Regions from separate parts of the Homo sapiens genome. Here all the other regions are linked to region 3. Evidence: fine-mapped QTL for protein levels in blood plasma. Region 3 holds a variant in brackets. A gene starts in each other region. All regions are shown on their reverse strands.

Region 1 (2,761 bases), not on the chromosome of region 3:
TAGTCAGGCATGATGGTGGGTGCCTGTAATCCCAGCTACCAGGGGGCCTGAGGCATGAGAATCGCTTGAACCTGGGAGGAGGAGGTTGCATTGAGCTGAGATCAGGTCACTGCACTCCAGCCTGGGTGACAGACCGAGACTTCGTCTCAAAAAAAAAAAAAAAAATTGTCCAGGCGCAGTGGCTCACGCCTGTAATCCTAGCACTTTGGAGGGCTGAGGCAGGTGGATCACGAGGTCAAGAGATCAATACCATCCTAGCCAACATGATGAAACCTCATCTCTACTAAAAATACAAAAAAAAAAAAATTAGCTGGACTTGGTGGCACACGCCTGTAGTCCCAGCTACTTGGGAGGCTGAGGCAGGAGAATTGCTTGAACCCAGGAGGCAGAGGTTGCAGTGAGCCAAGGCCACTGCACTCCAGCCTGGCAACAGAGAAAGACTCCATCCCAAAAGAGAAAGAGAGAGAGAGAGAGAGACGGAGTCTTGCTCTTTCGCCCAGGATGGGGTGCAGTGGTGCAATCTTGGCTCACTGCAGCCTCGACCTCCTGGGCTCAAGCGATCCTCCCGCCTGGGTCTCCTGTGTAGCTGGGACTACAGGCATGCGCCACCATGCCCGGTTAATTTTTGTATTTTTTTGTAGAGACAGGGTTTCGCCATGTTGCCCAGGCTAAAAATGCATAGAATCTTATGGGACCTCCATTGTCTGTGCGGTCCACCTGTTGACCAAATGTTGTTATGCAGTGCATGACTGTACTGCCTCCTCAGTGAAGCCTCCAGAATCACTTCTCCTTTATAAACGAACTCCTTCCTTTGACTTAAGGCCATTTGCATGAGTTCCAGGGTAGCTCTTTTAACGGCTTTTCTGTGTGTATCTGCCTTAGCCTGAGAGCCCTTTGAAGACAGGGCTTACATATTTCTACCTCAGTGACTGCTAGTGGACTTCAACATCATCGAAGTACAGAACTTCATATCAAAATGTGCCTTGAAGGCCCATTTTACAGATAGGGAGACTGACTTCCATTTCCATTTCTCTCCCTGATGCCCCATCCATGCAAGGCGCTGGCCTGGCTAGTCAGCGAATCAAGGTCCGCAAGAGCCAGTGTCTGGCGCCCCGGGAGGGACTCCATTTCCCGAAACGCACAGCGCGCGCCCGATGCGTGCTGGGGAATGTAGTCCTGACCCGGTGCCCCGCCCCCGCCCCACCCCCGAAGTTTCCCAGCACCAGTCGCGATCCTCAGCAGCCCAGACTTTCGTCTCCTGTTGTCACTCACTACTTCCTGTGACTCCAAGACTGCCTTCCCTTACTCTACCCCTTCCTTCAGCCCCCCAGCTCTGATTCTTTCCCGAGACTCAGTGGACGCAGGGGTCCTGCCCCAGCCCCGACCCCAGTCCTCCCCCTGGGTGTACTCGAACCGGTGATCTAAGCCCTGAGCCCAGGTCCCTGAAACCTCAGCCCCAGGCCTCCTCTAAACCCTAGCGCCTGCTGTTTCTCACAACTCACCCGCTCACTCGTTACCTGACACCGGAGCCCTGCCCTTCCCCGCCAAGGCCGCTCCCCTCCCGGACCCGGGGGTGGCGGAAACCCAGACCCCCAGCTCCCAATCCCTCTGACTCCTGCGCCCCTCAGCGACCCGGCGTCCGGTCCCTCAGCCCCTTACCCAGACTTCCCTCCCTCCGGCTCATGCTGGCCCCTGGCTGATCCCGGCTCCCTTCACGCCCCCCTTTCGAGGGGGGAGAAAGGGGAAAGGGCTGGGGGCGTGGCCCGGGCGCAGCCAATCAGAGCCCAGACCCCAAACATTTCATCCTACCCCCCCTTTTGAGACAGGATTCCTTGGCCCTGAGCTCAGCTCCTCGTCCGTGGGGCCTAGTGGGGGAAGGGGCCCGAGGGGGAAGGCAAGTTGTCTGCCGGGTGGACAGGACCTCGGGGCTGGGGGTGTCAGGGCCTGGGAGGCAGCCCAATGTTCTGCCGCGGGCTCAGGCTTGGACCTGAGGCAGCGGCTGCTTTGGGTGTAAAGCTGAGGAGACAGGAGAGGGAACTGCCGGACTGGCAGGACAGGAATGCGCAGGCCCTCTCTCTAGTCTGGGGCGCGGCTTGCGAGGGAGGCTACGATGGGGGCCGTCAGGCTTGGGGCATGTTTGTCCAGACATACATCTCCTGGCCTATCTTAGATGGCTTCCAATCTCATTGTCACACCCACCAGGAGGGAGACAGATACACTGCTCTCCTCTTCTTAGCAGGCCTAGTAACAATCACACCCCGCCCCCCACCCCCAGGAGAACAAGCTACAGAGACCTGGACAGGAAGTCACACCCATACGTCAACCCCATTAACCTGGTGTAGACGGAAAGGAAGGCACATAGGGATGATCCATACTTGGTTTCTGGCCCCCGCGAGGGGCTCGCGGTCTGTCGAGGAAGCCCATAGACAACAGAAGCTAATGGGGTTTGTGAATGAAGACGAGGAGGCCCGTGTGTGTGTGCGCTTGCGTGTGTCTGCGTGTGTGCGTGCATGCGGACGTGTGTGCGTGTGAGCATGCGTGTGTGCGAGTGGATTTGTGTGCGTGTGAGTGTGCAGGTGTGCGCGTGTGTGCATGTGCGCGTGCATGTGTGTGCGTGTGTTCGTGTGAGTGGGTGTGTGTATTGCCGTGAGCAATTGCTGGAATAAAAGAAGAAAGAGTTTAACTGGAGAGGGCACAGCAGATAGAATTGAGCCAGACAATTGGTAGGGCCCACAATCACATGTGTATTAACTGTAAATAT
Region 2 (2,761 bases), not on the chromosome of region 3:
AGGTGTGAGCCACCGTGCCCAGCTATTATGGATTTTTATATTAAGTTGCTGCTTGAGAGAAGATAGCTCACTTTCTCAAAGTACAATAAGTGGTTTAATTGAACCAAGTCTGTCTGGCTTCAAGGCCCATTCTTTTTCTGTGTGATACACCTCACTACCTCATCAGTAATGAACTTGTGACATTTGCTAAGGAAAGATGGGACTTCTTGGTGTCATCTCTGATTAATTTCTATATTTTCTCTAGAGAACTATGTACCTGGATGGTGTGTCACATCATCTAGTCTAAATCGTATTTTGACACTACATGAGGATTCCAAGTGATTTTTCTCTTGTACAAACGTACTCTTCCTTATCATAACTTTGGTACCACCATGATAAATAGGTAATAAAGTAGAAGGAATAAATAAAGCTCCCCCAGGCATAGAATCCTTAGATTTGGAAGTGACAGAGGCTTCATATTCCTAATGCAGAAAAGTGCCTGTATCATGGGCCAGTTTCATCCAGTCCTGCTTAAACTCCTTGGAGGATGCACCGTTGTGAACAAATCAAGAAGTCCACAATCAAGATTAGGAAAGGCTAGGTCAGATACAATAACAGACACCCTCAAATTCTCAGTAGCCAAAACAAAGGACTATTTTTTAGTGAAAGACTCCAATTCCCCCACATGGTGGATGGGGCTCCACTTGTGTTCTTTCTCACTCAGGGACCCAGTCTGCTGGAGGAGCCAATATGGAGAATTGCAGGTTGCCTTGGGCAGTGGTGAAAGCATGGCAAAGCTTGCAGTGGTCTTACGGCCTCCGCCAGAAAGTGGTATCTGTCACTGGCCAAAACAAGTCACCTGAGTAAGTCTGACTTCAAGAGGGAAGGGAGGGGCAGCAAGTCTTGACACGCAGTAAAACAGGATACCACAAAGACCTTCTTCCATCAGCTGACCAGCACCTGGTTCTTTCAGAATTCTTCCTACGCTCTAGAGCCAAATCTTTAGTTTGTTAGCTCAGACTCCACAGTGCCCCAAACAAGCTAGGAAACTCTCCTTCCATGTCTTGCCTTTTCCCTCATGAGTTATTCTCTTCTGGCATTCAATTGGTCGACGTTTATTTGAACATCTATATGAAAACTCCACTTTTAAGTGCTGTGGGTAATATAGGGGTGAGTTTCTTTTTAAGTCTTATGCTTCAAAACCCACATATAAATCACTTTTCCCATAAAGCCTTTCTTGATGAATACACCCAATACCAAATGCTCTGAATTCCTTTACTGTCTCAAATGTAACTGCCACCCTATTTAGGACACAATGCTGTTCTACAGCATTCTCTAATGTGTTTTCTGGTTGAATGTTTGTTTCTCTCACTGGATTACAAACTCAGAGTCAAAGCAGCATTTTCTATGACTGCTCTATGACCCCCATTGTCAAAACCTTGCAAAAGACCAGGCACAGAAACATTTAATCCTTTTAAAATTTAAGTGTCTAAAGCAGAAGGAACTGACTCAAATTTCAGGAAGTAGCTGTGAGGATGGGGTGGCAGGAAATGACGAAAACCTGAATACGGAACTGAAGCAGCAGCTCAGTTTCTCACTCCGAAGTGGCAGCAGCCAGAGAGGGAGTCGGTGTGGACGCGAGGAGCCGGGCGCTTAGAACAGAGGCTTGCACAGGTGGAGGTGGGTACTCTGAGCCATGGGACAGTTGGGAAACACAGAGTAAGAGTTGAGGAGGAACCTACCTGGCTCTTAGTCCTTGGTGATGGGCAAGGTCACCACTAGTAGGCTTTTATCCTTTTATGGCCAGAAGGCCTGGTTGTGAGTGGTTGTAGCAAATCAGCATCTGGAGATAGAAACAAAAGGGAGGGGCTTAAACCCAAGGCAAGTGTTTCAGGAGCCATCTAGCACCAACATCAAGCAAAGTGTTGCCTGGTTTCTGCTGACAATCTACAACCCACTCTAAGGCCTGTCTCCCCTAGGTACTGAGCTGGGAGGAGGACCACAGGAGACGAAAACAGTGTCTGCCCTTGAAGAGCATATGGTCTCAGGGAAACAAACCCACACAGGAAATGTAACAGATCAGGAAGTAGTCACTGATGTACACTAGCACTGAGTACCAAGTGCTGATGGAGCCCAAGAGAAGGCATGATTGTTCTGCTGGGGCTAGTTTCTGTGTTCGTAGATCACAGAATCTCAGAATGTCAGAAATCAAGGAGACCACAGATGAGCTACGTTAACCCCTTCATTATTTTCCACTGGGAAAATCAGAGATAATTGCTGATTTGCCAAATTATTAAAGTTAGTATTTCTTAATCGCCTGGTCTGATACCTGGCAAATGAGTACCTACTCTGTTGATGCCCTTGTGATGGTCCCTCAGAGGCTTAGTCACAGAGCTGGGGTGACAGCCAGGGCTTCTGACTCCCAGTCTGTGTACTTTGATGCAGGAGGTCAGCATCGCAACAAGGCCTCACCAGATTACTCTCTGGTTCTCACCTCTAGATAGCACTTCTTACCTTTCTGGTTTCTGGTCAATAGGTCAAGGATATTAGATAAATTGTCTCTATTTCAGAAACTCTTTATTTCAAAAATGGGTGAATGGGAGAGTCAGGCTGAGGCCTCAGAGGAGCCACAGGAAGGAGGATGGGACCATCAGTCCTCATTGCTTCCTTATTGCTCATGACTATTTCAGAAACTTCTCCATTCCAGTTTTCTGTGTGACAGTCCTTTTGTTGTTGCACAGCAGCCCAGGAGCCAGGGGATGAGAAGCAGAGGGGTAGTAAG
Region 3 (2,761 bases):
AGCCTATATCAGATTTATTAATATTATTATTATTTCTTGTCACCCAGGCTGGAGTGCAGTGGTGCCATCACAGCTCACTGCAGCCTCAACCTCCCAGGCTCAAGCGATCCTCCCCGTTCAGCCTCCCAAGTAGCTGACTACAGGTACATGCCACCACACCCTGCTAATTATTTCTGTATACACACAAGATTAGATTCAAAAAGCACAGCTCAGGAAAGAGTGGGAGCCACTGGTACCACAGAACACTACCCAGCTGACATGAGACCAAATATTGGTTATAAAGAAAAAACTCAACACATGACTCGGGAAGAACTGACGGCAGGAAGAGACACCTACAATCTTCCTATCTGACACAGACCCAAAACATGTAAAGCACAGTCAACAAGAGTTTTGATATTACAGGAGAAAATGTCTCTAAACTCCTACAATCCATCTCTTAAATAGAGACAGGGTCTTGCTATGTTGCCCAGGCTGGACCTGAACTCCTGGGCTCAAGGAGTCCTGCCTCAGCCTTCCAAATAGCTAGGACTACAGGCATGCACCACCATGCCTGGCTACAATACTTGTACTATAATGGGGATCAGCCATTAACTCAAATTTTCCCTTTCTCTGAGATTCAGCTTCTTCATCAGAGAAATGAGAGGCTTGACCTAGATCAGTTAAGGTTAATGCCTTTTTTGAGTTACAGCAGACCCCTTTGATAAACCAATTACATCTATGGACCTTATTCCCAGCAAAATACATTCACAAATTTTTTTATGATTTCATGGCTAGGCATGCTGGTTCCTACCTGTAATACCAGCACTTTGGGAGGCCAATGTGGGGACAAATAGCTTGAGCTCAGGAGTTTGAGGCCAGCCTGGGCAACATGGCGAAACCCTGTCTCTACTAAAAATACAAAAAAATTAGCTGGGCATGGTGGTGCATGCCTGTAATCCCAGCTATTCAGGAGGCTGAGGCATGAGAATTGCTTAAACCCCGGAGATGGAGATTGCAGTGAGCCAAGATCATCGCACCACTGCACTCCAGCCTGGATGACAGAGCAAGACTCTGTCTCAAAAAATATATATATAAATAAAAATAATTTTTTTATGATTTCAAAGAGTTCACAGAGCCGAGTTTAGAATTAAATGAGATTCTCTCTGGAGATAATAAGATGGTGTGGAGGGGGCAGGAAAAAGAGGGGAAATGAGTGATACTTTTGTAAACCACCCCCTCTACTCTACCTGGCATCCAGTAATGCTGGATAAATTCAATAAATGTGTGTGTGGCCTTCATAAATTAATAAATATGATTGAGAAAACTAACAGCCAGCAGGGGGAATAAAGGTCAGCAACCACGCTCCCTCCAGCTTTCTTTTTTTTTTTCCCTTTTTTTTTTTAAGACTGAGTTTCATTCTTGTTGCCCAGGCTGGAGTGCAATGG[T/C]GCAATCTCAGCTCACTGCAACCTCCACCTCCCAGGTTCAAGCGATTCTCCTGCCTCAGCCTCTCAAATAGCTGGCATTACAGGCACCCACCACCACACCTGGCTAATTTTGTGTTTTTAGTAGACAGGGCTTTGCCATGTTGGTAAGGCTGGTCTCGAACTCCTGACCTCAGGTGATCCGCCTGCCTCAGCCTCCCAAAGTGCTGGGATTACACGCGTGAGCTACCATGCCCAGCCACCTCCAGCTTTCAATGGCTGAATTTGATGACTGTGAAATGGGCAGGACAAAGACAACCAAACCCTAAGCTTTTTAGGAATGCAAAGTCTCAGGACCTTTCTCAAAACTCAGAAAGCCTGTCTGTTGGAAAATTTTTTTTTTTTGAGACGGAGTCTCACTCTGTCGCCCAAGCTGGAGTGCAGTGGCTCACTGCAACCTCCGCCTCCCGGGTTCACGCCATTCTCCTGCCTCAGCCTCCTGAGTAGCTGGGATTACAGGCGCGTGACACCATGACCGGCTAATTTTTGTATTTTTGGTAGAGACGGGTTTCACCATGTTGGTCAGGCTGGTCTCAAACTCCTGACCTCGTGATCCGCCCGCCTCGGCCTCCCAAAGTGCTGGATTACAGGCGTGAGCCACCGCGCCCGGCCTTGCTGGAGGATTTTTTACCCAGGGGTCACATAGTCCCTAATTCTTCAACTATCATGGAAGTGAAAGAATCACAGAAATGAGGGACAAAGCAGTACTGCTGGGAAGAGAGATGAACTGAATAAGGAGAAATCAGACTATACTCCAGACCTGAGGCCTGAGAGCACCATTAGAACATTCTGCCTTCTCAGTTTGGTAATCCAGGAGCCCTCACTTAAATAACACTCAGCAAAGGAAAAAAATCAAAAGGGGCTAGATCCATTCCTGATGAGTCCTGGGTCACGATTTGTATCATGATTTATCCCTTTACTCCCCCCCACATCTCCCTGCTTTTGCTCCTGAAAACAAAAAGCTAGTCTCTGAGAGACTGAATTGACAGACTCTGTGTTATCTTTCAGTCTATTTATGCCCCCAAATCAACCCCGAGGCAGAATTGCTCTATTCTCCTCTGGTTTTAGTCTCCCTCTAAAACCACACAACAGAAAAGGAGTTGCAGAAAATTAGTTGACCGAGCTATCCAGGGCAATTGGCTATGGATGGGATATCTGCATTGAGAGTGAGAAAATAGGCCGGGCGCAGTGGCTCACACCTGTAATCCCAGCACTTTGGGAGGCCAAGGCATGTGGATCACAAGGTCAGGAGTTCGAGGCCAGCTTGGCCAACATGGCGAAACCCCGTCTCTACTAAAAAT

Direction of the effects. Alleles are on the strand shown, and positions count from the first base shown. The strength of an association depends on the size of the effect and on how common the allele is.
As copies of C replace T in region 3, the plasma level of the protein whose gene starts at base 1,714 in region 1 goes up (weak association).
For the plasma level of the protein whose gene starts at base 1,576 in region 2, T is the low allele of the variant in region 3 and C is the other (weak association).

Evidence for each region. A credible set is the group of variants that fine-mapping cannot tell apart. PIP is the posterior inclusion probability: the model's chance that the variant is causal. The UK Biobank Pharma Proteomics Project read protein levels with antibody pairs (Olink). The fine-mapping took linkage between variants from a reference panel, not from the people measured, so its PIPs are less certain.
Region 1: CTF1 starts here. The variant in region 3 is the best candidate, but not a certain one, in a credible set for the plasma level of the CTF1 protein (UK Biobank, PIP 0.73).
Region 2: it holds the start of HCLS1, and the variant in region 3 is the best candidate, but not a certain one, in a credible set for the plasma level of the HCLS1 protein (UK Biobank, PIP 0.67).

What each region holds. Positions count from the first base shown.
Region 1 is chr16:30,895,567-30,898,327 of GRCh38, reverse strand. CTF1 (cardiotrophin 1) reads right to left here and starts at 1,714. Exons shown (of 3, transcript NM_001330.5): 1 at 1,660-1,714. The coding sequence starts at 1,684. RefSeq lists enhancers at 1,128-1,177, 2,041-2,544, 2,545-2,761.
Region 2 is chr3:121,659,718-121,662,478 of GRCh38, reverse strand. HCLS1 (hematopoietic cell-specific Lyn substrate 1) reads left to right here and starts at 1,576. Exons shown (of 14, transcript NM_005335.6): 1 at 1,576-1,659. RefSeq lists enhancers at 1,304-1,353, 1,544-1,733.
Region 3 is chr12:54,331,355-54,334,115 of GRCh38, reverse strand. The region is part of intron 1 of COPZ1 (coat protein complex I subunit zeta 1); the gene reads right to left. Among named protein-coding and RNA genes, the nearest start is that of MIR148B, 4.5 kb to the left of the region's middle. The variant T/C (reference allele first, on the strand shown) is at 1,425.